Linked DNA regions of Homo sapiens. The protein of the gene in region 1 purifies or fractionates together with the protein of each later gene. This does not show direct contact. Each region holds a gene or a part of one and is shown in the gene's direction. Other genes may lie near its edges.

Evidence for each region.
Region 2: the proteins of GCSAML (region 1) and SASS6 purify together in Homo sapiens (affinity purification with mass spectrometry; one large-scale study listed by BioGRID and IntAct). This does not show direct contact.

Annotation. Positions count from the first base shown.
Region 1 is NC_000001.11:247,547,728-247,552,042, forward strand, and holds the start of GCSAML (germinal center-associated signaling and motility-like protein), read left to right. Parts: upstream 1-1,406; 5' UTR 1,407-1,464; coding exon 1,465-1,493; intron 1,494-4,315.
Region 2 is NC_000001.11:100,119,174-100,122,994, reverse strand, and holds part of SASS6 (spindle assembly abnormal protein 6 homolog), read left to right. Parts: intron 1-510; coding exon 511-615; intron 616-1,445; coding exon 1,446-1,617; intron 1,618-2,535; coding exon 2,536-2,601; intron 2,602-3,821.

The DNA of each region.
Region 1 (4,315 bases):
TTTACCGCTCCATGGATTGGCTGGAGTGGCATCACCTGGGAACTTGTTAGAAAGGCAAAATATTGATCCCAGTTTGAAAGAGTCAGAATCTGCATTTTAACAGGATCCTCGGGTGATTTGCTTACATGAGAAAGTTTGGGAAGCAGCACTTTGGTACATAGGTTGTCACATACGAATTAGATAAATCATAAATCTGAAATGGGGTGTGTGACATTCCTGCTTGTAATATATTTTTCTCATGTTTATAATCGATAAATAAACAATACAAAACTTATAAATAATGATAAAGCACTCCAGACTCCTGAGTTCTGCTGCTGGTTAACAGTCAATTAAACTTCCTCAGTCCTGATTTCCTCATTGGGAGAAAAAAAGAGTTGGAATAGGTGAGCATATAGTTTCTGATTTCAGCAAATAGATTTTGTGTTGGTTGGAAGCTGAAGAAAATCAACCACCTGTGGTATAAATCCTTCGGCAGGAGACATCATGAATAAGCGATTTCAGTCTCCTGACAGCCACGGCTCAGAGTCAGCTGTTAGCTGATCTCCTGCCGCTGATATTGTGGCCTCGAAATTATCACTAGAACCAGCTTGTGCTTTGTGGCTCTGGTGGGCAGCCTAGGGGAGGAAGTGGGGGACCAGATGCTGGCAACAGGTCTTCCAGGCCCTGCATTTTCCCCATTGTCATGTTAGTCTTTGAGCTGACAACCAGAACAATGGCTTCTTAACCTACCCCAAATAATTTTGATAACCTTCTATTCTCATCCTTTTTTTTCCTTTTTCTTTCCCATCTTGTCTTTGAAAGTATCAGACCTCTGAGGAAAGGCTATTGACATTTGATCTGATTATCGTTGCTAGAGCCACAAAGAGAAATTTTATTTCTAACGTTGTTTTTTTCTTTTCCCCAAGAAGAGGCTTTCTCTTTGTATGTTTGGAAGAGGACAACATATTTGGAATCTTGAGATCTCAGATCTCTGTAATGAGCAGTTTGCCTAAGAAATCATGAATCCAGATTAATCACTTTTATTCCAGCAAAAATGCAACTCTCTTATTGCATTGTGTAATCTTATTATTATGCTCACTTCGGAGGAATAGGGAAGTCCTTACCTTGTTTCGTCTTGCAATACTAGAATTTCCTTGAAAGCAAAGTGAACCTGGAGTGATAGATTCACTTTCATGTTTCAGCCTGATTTTTTCCCACTGTATGCCCACGCGTGTGTGTATGAGTGTGTGTGTGTGCGTGCAGGCACACACACGCACACTCACATTTTCCTTTCTGCCTCCCCTTTCGAGCTCTTCCTGCCTTCTCTATCATGCGCAGGCCCCTGGCAGCTCGTGGTTGGCAAGAGCACGAACCCGTGGTCAGATGCAACGTCCTGCCTCATGCATTTTCCTCTTGGTGCTTTGGTCAGAACTTCCCCAAGTGGAGTGAAACTCAGGAGCTGAGAAACCGAGTCACTGTGAAAAGATGGGAAATTATCTCCTGCGAAAACTCAGGTGAGTCTTGACTCTTGGTGCCGCCTTTCTTGGGAGAAAGAGAACAGAGATAAGGAGGCTGGACATAACGCATTTGTAATGGTGAGGTACATTGTGCTTCTAGAAGGTTAAGCCTGAAGACAGCATCCTCTAGGAGCACACAGTGACGCCCAGTTGGCTCCTTCTCTTGCCTTACTCTGGAACAATGATAGGTTGCCAGATGTAGAAAACAAAAATACTGGATGCTAAGTCACATTCAAATTCCAGAAAAACATTTTTTTTTTTAGTATGAATGTGCCTCATATAATATTTTGGGCATTATAACATGGGTTGTACTTTACTAAAAAGTTATTCATTGTTTATCTGAAATTCAAATTTAGCAGTGCATCTTGTATTTCATCTGGCAACCCTACACAATTGTCACTTGAATTTTCCTGCTTCTCTTTTTCTTCATGTGGGTGTAGAGCTTAACTTTCCATCCATCAGCTTCGTGGGTTGGTATGAGAATGAACAGTTAGGTCCTTGCAAATTATGGATGCGGGATATGCATTTGAATGCCTTTGACTTTAGTCACACCTTTTTTGGTAATGTTTAGCCTTACACTCTTCCAATACTTCATAATTTATAGAATGTGTACAGATAACAGGCATTATTGTTCTTACATCTTGCTTAATCTTAAATGATGGGCTCTACAGCATCCCACTCCTCTGTCCGCTCTCCCAGTCCCCTTCCAGACAATCTTGCATATGACGTGACTACATTGATAGACCCAAGGCAAAACTCTCATCATATCGCTCCTGTGCTCCAGTGGGTACCATGTAGAAATATGACTGGACAAAAAGGGTATGACCTAACGCTAATAGACGGAGTGGAAAATCCCAGCAAGTCTTGTTCTGTCTGTTTAGATTCTTCTTGACCTCTCTGTGCAGCGTTCCTTACTTACGGGTATGGGGCAGAGGACTCTCTGGAATGGGGGCTTATGACCTACAGTCAAACAAAGTAGGTCAGAGAAGCTGTCTTTATGAGGCAGCAGATTGGCTTCCCCACACCTGATGGTTCATACCGTCTCCTTTCACCAGGTTAAATAGTTCAGCTGTCCCTTGATGTCTTCATTTAGTCTTTCAGTAAATTGCTATTTGTTAAAGAGCTTAAGGGTGGCTGGGCACGGTGGCTCATGTCTGTAATCCCAGCACTTTGGGAGGCCGAGGCGGGTGGATCACGAGGTCAGGAGATCGAGACCATTCTGGCTAACACGGTGAAACTCCGTCTCTACTAAAAATACAAACAATTAGCCGGGCGTGGTGGTGGGCACCTGTAATCCCAGCTACTCGGCAGGCTGGGGCAGGAGAATGGCGTGAACCCGGGAGGCGGAGCTTGCAGTGAGCCGAGATCCCGCCACTGCACTCCAGCCTGGGCGACAGAGCAAGACTCTGTCTCAAATAAACAAACAAACAAAAAAAAATGCTTAAGGGTTCATGGATGGAGAAGGGCCATCAAAGTTCAGGATGAGCATGAGTCTGGGCAGTAGATGGAGGACAAATGACACAATTGTGCTGAGAGGTAAATTCAATTATTTACCCTAAAGAAAAAATGTTTCCCTTCTTTTAAAGTTAAGCAATATTTATGGAAAGCCTAGGTAAGACAATGGTCTTGGTCGCAAGAAAAAATTAAACATGGAAGGAAAATGGATATGGAAGCAAATTTTAAAAATGGATAGGCCCCTTCAGAGAACATCGTACTTAATCACTCTGACTCAGCTTTAAAAAAATAGACATTACGTGGCTCAGATAATTAAAATTGAGAGAGAATTAAAACTTGTCAAGGTTGCCTTTGCTATAAAATTATGAATCTTACATGTAATTTATGATGTCAAGTCATCCGTCATTTCCATTACACCACAATGGCTTCTTTTTAAGATAAGGCAGGTGCTAATGTGTTCTAGGCAGAAGCACAAACAGCGCACTGTAGAAATAAAAGGAAGGAAGGAAGGGAATTCTGGTTTGGGATAGCAGGAAGGAAGGACATGCTTGAGGAATTGCCATTTGGATTGTGCTGTAAATGTTAGGCAGACTTACAAAGCAGGAAAAGATGGTCCAAGCTGAAGGGACAACCTGTGAAAATGTATGAGTTTCAAGTGTATGGTATTACTGTCAATAATTGGAGCATATTGTTCAGAGATGACTCCAGTAGCAGAAGAAGTTGAGAATGAAGCTGGGGGTCTGATAATGAAGGGCCTTCAAAGGCACGTAGAAAGTGGTAAGCAGTGAACATTTATAAGCTGGAGAAAAATGCAATGTGGCATGTATTTTAGGAAGAAATGTCTATGCTCAGTGAGTATGGAGGAATGACACAGAGAGAAATAGACAATAAGCTCTTAAAATATACCAAAGAAGATGCAGGGGCAAAAGGAAAACTTCCCCTTTGCTCCCTGAAGGTTCTCTGAAATCAGCTGAGAAAAGGCAGATTAATAGGACAAAAGGCAAATTTATTGATCATCGTTTTATGTGACACAGGAACCTCAGAATGAAGACCCAAAGATGCAAAGGAAACTGTCCATTTCTATGCTTAGGTTCAACAAATTTTGGATAGCCATGTGGAAATATGATTGGACAAAAAGGATATGACCTAATGCTAATAGACAGAGTGGAAAATCCCAGCAAGTCTTGTTCTGTCTGTTTAGATTCTTCTCGACCTCTCTGTACAGCATTCCTTACTTATGAGTATGGGGCAGAACACTCTCTGGAATGGGGGCTTATGACCTACAGTCAGACAAAGTAGGTCAGATAATGTCTTTATGGCTGGTTCTTACACAGAAAGATACAGGGAAAGTTAGAGTCATCTTA
Region 2 (3,821 bases), about 150 Mb from region 1:
TTGCTGAATTTATTGATTTTTTTTCCCATTGAATACGTTCTATAAAAATCAGAGTTCCTTAGCTTAGTTCTTGATTATAACAAGCGTTAGTAAATTTGAAAAAAGAATCCTTCAGGATGCTAATTATAATTAAAGATAGTAATTGGCCAGGCACGGTGGCTCACGCCTGTAATCCCAGCACTTTGGGCGGCCGAAGAGGGCGGATCATGAGGTCAGAAGTTCGAGACTAGTCTGACCAACATGGTGAAACCCTGTCTTAACTAAAAATACAAAAATTAGCCAGGTATGGTGGCATGTGCCTGTAATCCCAGCTACTCAGGAGGCTGAGGAAGGAGAATCTCTTGAACCTGGGAGGCAGAGGTTGCAGTGAGCCAAGATTGCACCACTGCACTCCAGCCTGGGTGATGGAGTGAGCCTCTATCTCAAAAAAAAAAAAAAAAAAAAAGGCACCAAAACAAAACAAAGTTAATTAAAATTTTTAAAAAATTTCTTTTCCTTTCTTCTGTATAGTTTAAAATTCCAGCAAGGTCTTCTGGTAGACTTCTTAGCTTTCCCACAAAAATTTATAGATCTCCTTCAGCAATGTACTCAAGAACATGCCAAAGAAATTCCAAGGTAAGTTGCATGAGAATGCTACATTATTAAATTTAATTCAAGACAGACTCTTCTTTGAAACACAAGTTGATGGCAAAATCTTTTCCGTTTATTATGACTATCCCTGTTTATTTTTAGAACTGGGGTTAGGCCTCCATTAAATCTCAGACTTTAAGGCATCTTGATTAAAATCAGAAATATTTCTTAATTTTCATGTCTTGACAAAGGCACTAAAGTCATCCGAAATATTTAGCAGCATCAAATATTTGGTTTTATAATGATATTGGAAAAAGGGAAGACTAAGATTGTATGTGTGTATGGTGCTAACGCCTGATTCTTTTACTGTAAAGTTCACCATCAACCTTTTATTTATTGGTTTTATCAGTTGACGATTGTTGTTGAATCAGTTATTTCATTAGGAAGAACAAAATGATGCTTCTGTATAATTTTTTCTATATTAAGTATAATTCTTCTATAAAGAAGAACTTTTCCTCAGCAATTAGGGCTATTTGATTACTCAGAAAATTCATAAAGGATAAATGCTTAATTCTTGCATTTAAATTGTCAATTTTTAGAGTAAAGAGCTGGTAGTCTACTTTTGTGGCACTCAGTGAATTTTTGTTTCTAGTTTTTGCTTTTTCTCTCATTTGTTTCTCATGAACTCATGGACTTTTATGTAGTCACTGTGTTTCAGTCAATCTTTTCTTTTTTTTGCCCAATTTATCTTTTACCATTGGGAGTCCTCAATGTGCTCCCTTTCCTGAGCTTTCTTAAGTAGAGAAGCTTCTGATTCAGTGAGAGATTTTCACTATCTCTTAAGTGTGTTATAATGTAACATTTTCTTTTCAAAGGTTTTTGCTACAGTTAGTTTCTCCAGCAGCTATTTTGGATAACTCACCTGCATTTTTAAATGTGGTAGAGACAAATCCTTTTAAGCATCTTACACACCTCTCACTAAAACTTTTACCTGGAAATGATGTGGAGATAAAGAAATTTCTCGCAGGCTGTTTGAAATGTAGCAAGGTAAGATTTAAATTTAAGTTATTCTTTTAACAAAATAAGTATCAATGGTCTTTGATAAATTATTGAAGAGATACATTGCCATAAGTTTTTGTTTTCTAAATAAAGTTTTATGAAATATAACGAATTTATTTTACTGTTTCTTATTTAGTCAAGGTATAGTCGGGATGGATCTGGACCAGGAATTGAGAAGCTTAGGTCTCAGGGTTTTTACCAATCGTGTGATTTTGGACAGGTCACTTAAACTCTTCTGTCATGGTTTCATCAACTGGTAGACATGTATGGAAATAGCTACCCTATCTAGCCCATCTTTTTTTTTTTTTTTTTTTTTGAGACGGAGTCTCGCTCTGTCGCCCAGGCTGGAGTGCAGTGGCGGGATCTCGGCTCACTGCAAGCTCCGCCTCCCGGGTTCACGCCATTCTCCTGCCTCAGCCTCCCAACTAGCTGGGACTACAGGCGCCCGCCACTACGCCCGGCTAATTTTTTGTATTTTTAGTAGAGACGGGGTTTCACCGTTTTAGCCAGGATGGTCTCAATCTCCTGACCTCGTGATCCGCCCGCCTCGGCCTCCCAAAGTGCTGGGACTACAGGCGTGAGCCACCGCGCCCGGCCCTAGCCCATCTTTAATGAGATAAGATATATGGAAATGTCTTGAAAATTATAAAGTGCTATATGGCACAAGGAAACAACATAGGGATGCTGCTTGAGTTTTTAGAGTCTTTCTAGTCAAATGCTATAGATCAGTGCATGTCAAACTTTAAATTATCTGGGGATCTTGTTAAAATGATTTAGATTTGAGATGGAGCCTAAGAATCTGCATTTCTAACAGGCTTCCAGGATGATGCTGATGCTATACTTTGAGTAGCATGGCTATAGATGATTACATTGTAAACTGTGTAATTTTATTATTTTTATGAATAGGAAGAAAAATTATCATTGATGCAATCACTAGATGATGCTACTAAGCAACTGGACTTTACACGAAAGGTAATTCAAATTTCATTTTGTCTTTGTAAGTCATCCAGACATTGGCACTGAATTGCTTCCTTGACTCAGTTCCAAGCTTTTATGTATTTTCTTTCAAAGCATGCTTCCGTTGAATTTCCATTCCTCTTTGCCACCCTTCAACTACCACTTAATTATCTTAATTTGATACTTTCTCTTGTACATACTTGATTTTACACAAACATTTCTGTATCCCCAATATATAACATGTTCCCTCGAGTCTTCATTAAATAAGATATGTATGTTTCTGTCATATATTAGTTCTCCACTCCCCACTTGTTCGCCTCATTCCTCTGGCCTAAATGGCTTTTCAGTTCCTATGCTCTAAACCTTTCCCTTTCTTTGCTATGTTTAGAATTAATTCCTCTGATAGGCTTAGCATCATTTCAGTCATAGCTACAACATTTCTGCCCTAGTTCATGAAATTGAAGGCCAGAGTATCTGTTTTAGCTTGTTCTTGCTTTGCTTTAAAGAACTATCTGAAGCTGGGTAATTTATAAAGAAAAGAGATTTAATTGGTTCATTGTTCTGTAGGCTGTACAAGCATGGCACCAACATCTGCTTGGCTTCTAGTGGGGACCTGAGGAAGTTTACAGTCATGGCTGAAGGCAAAGGGGAGCAGGAGTGTCACATGGTGAGGGTGGGAGGAAGGAGGTACCACATGCTTTTAAACATCCAGATCTCATATGAACTAACTGAATGAGAACTTGCTTAACACCAAGGGAATGGCACTAAACCATTCCCATGATCCAATCACCTACCACAGGCCCTGCCTCCTCTGTTGGGGATTACATTTGAACATGAGACTTGGAGGGGACAGACATCCTAACTATATCGGTATCTGATAATCTGCATGGCCTCATGCAGAAAATACCCCTGCACAATGTGGCCCACAGGGCCATGTTACTGGGTTTTATATGTAAGTGAACTATTCCTTATAATCGACTTGCTTCCCCTTACCCCTCTTTATTGGGTGGTAAAGAGCCAGATTTAATTAAAAGCTTTAATTAAAAGATAGTTAATCTTGACCTGTGGGCCGTTTTGGGTCTAAGATTGTTCTTATTCTAATGTTGATTTCCTAAAATTAAAAAATTTTGTGTAGGAAAAGGCTTTGAACATGTCCTGAAAAGCTATAATTTTGTTTTCTTTAATATCCTTGTAAATATTGCTATATTCTAATCAAAATTATTACATATTAAGGA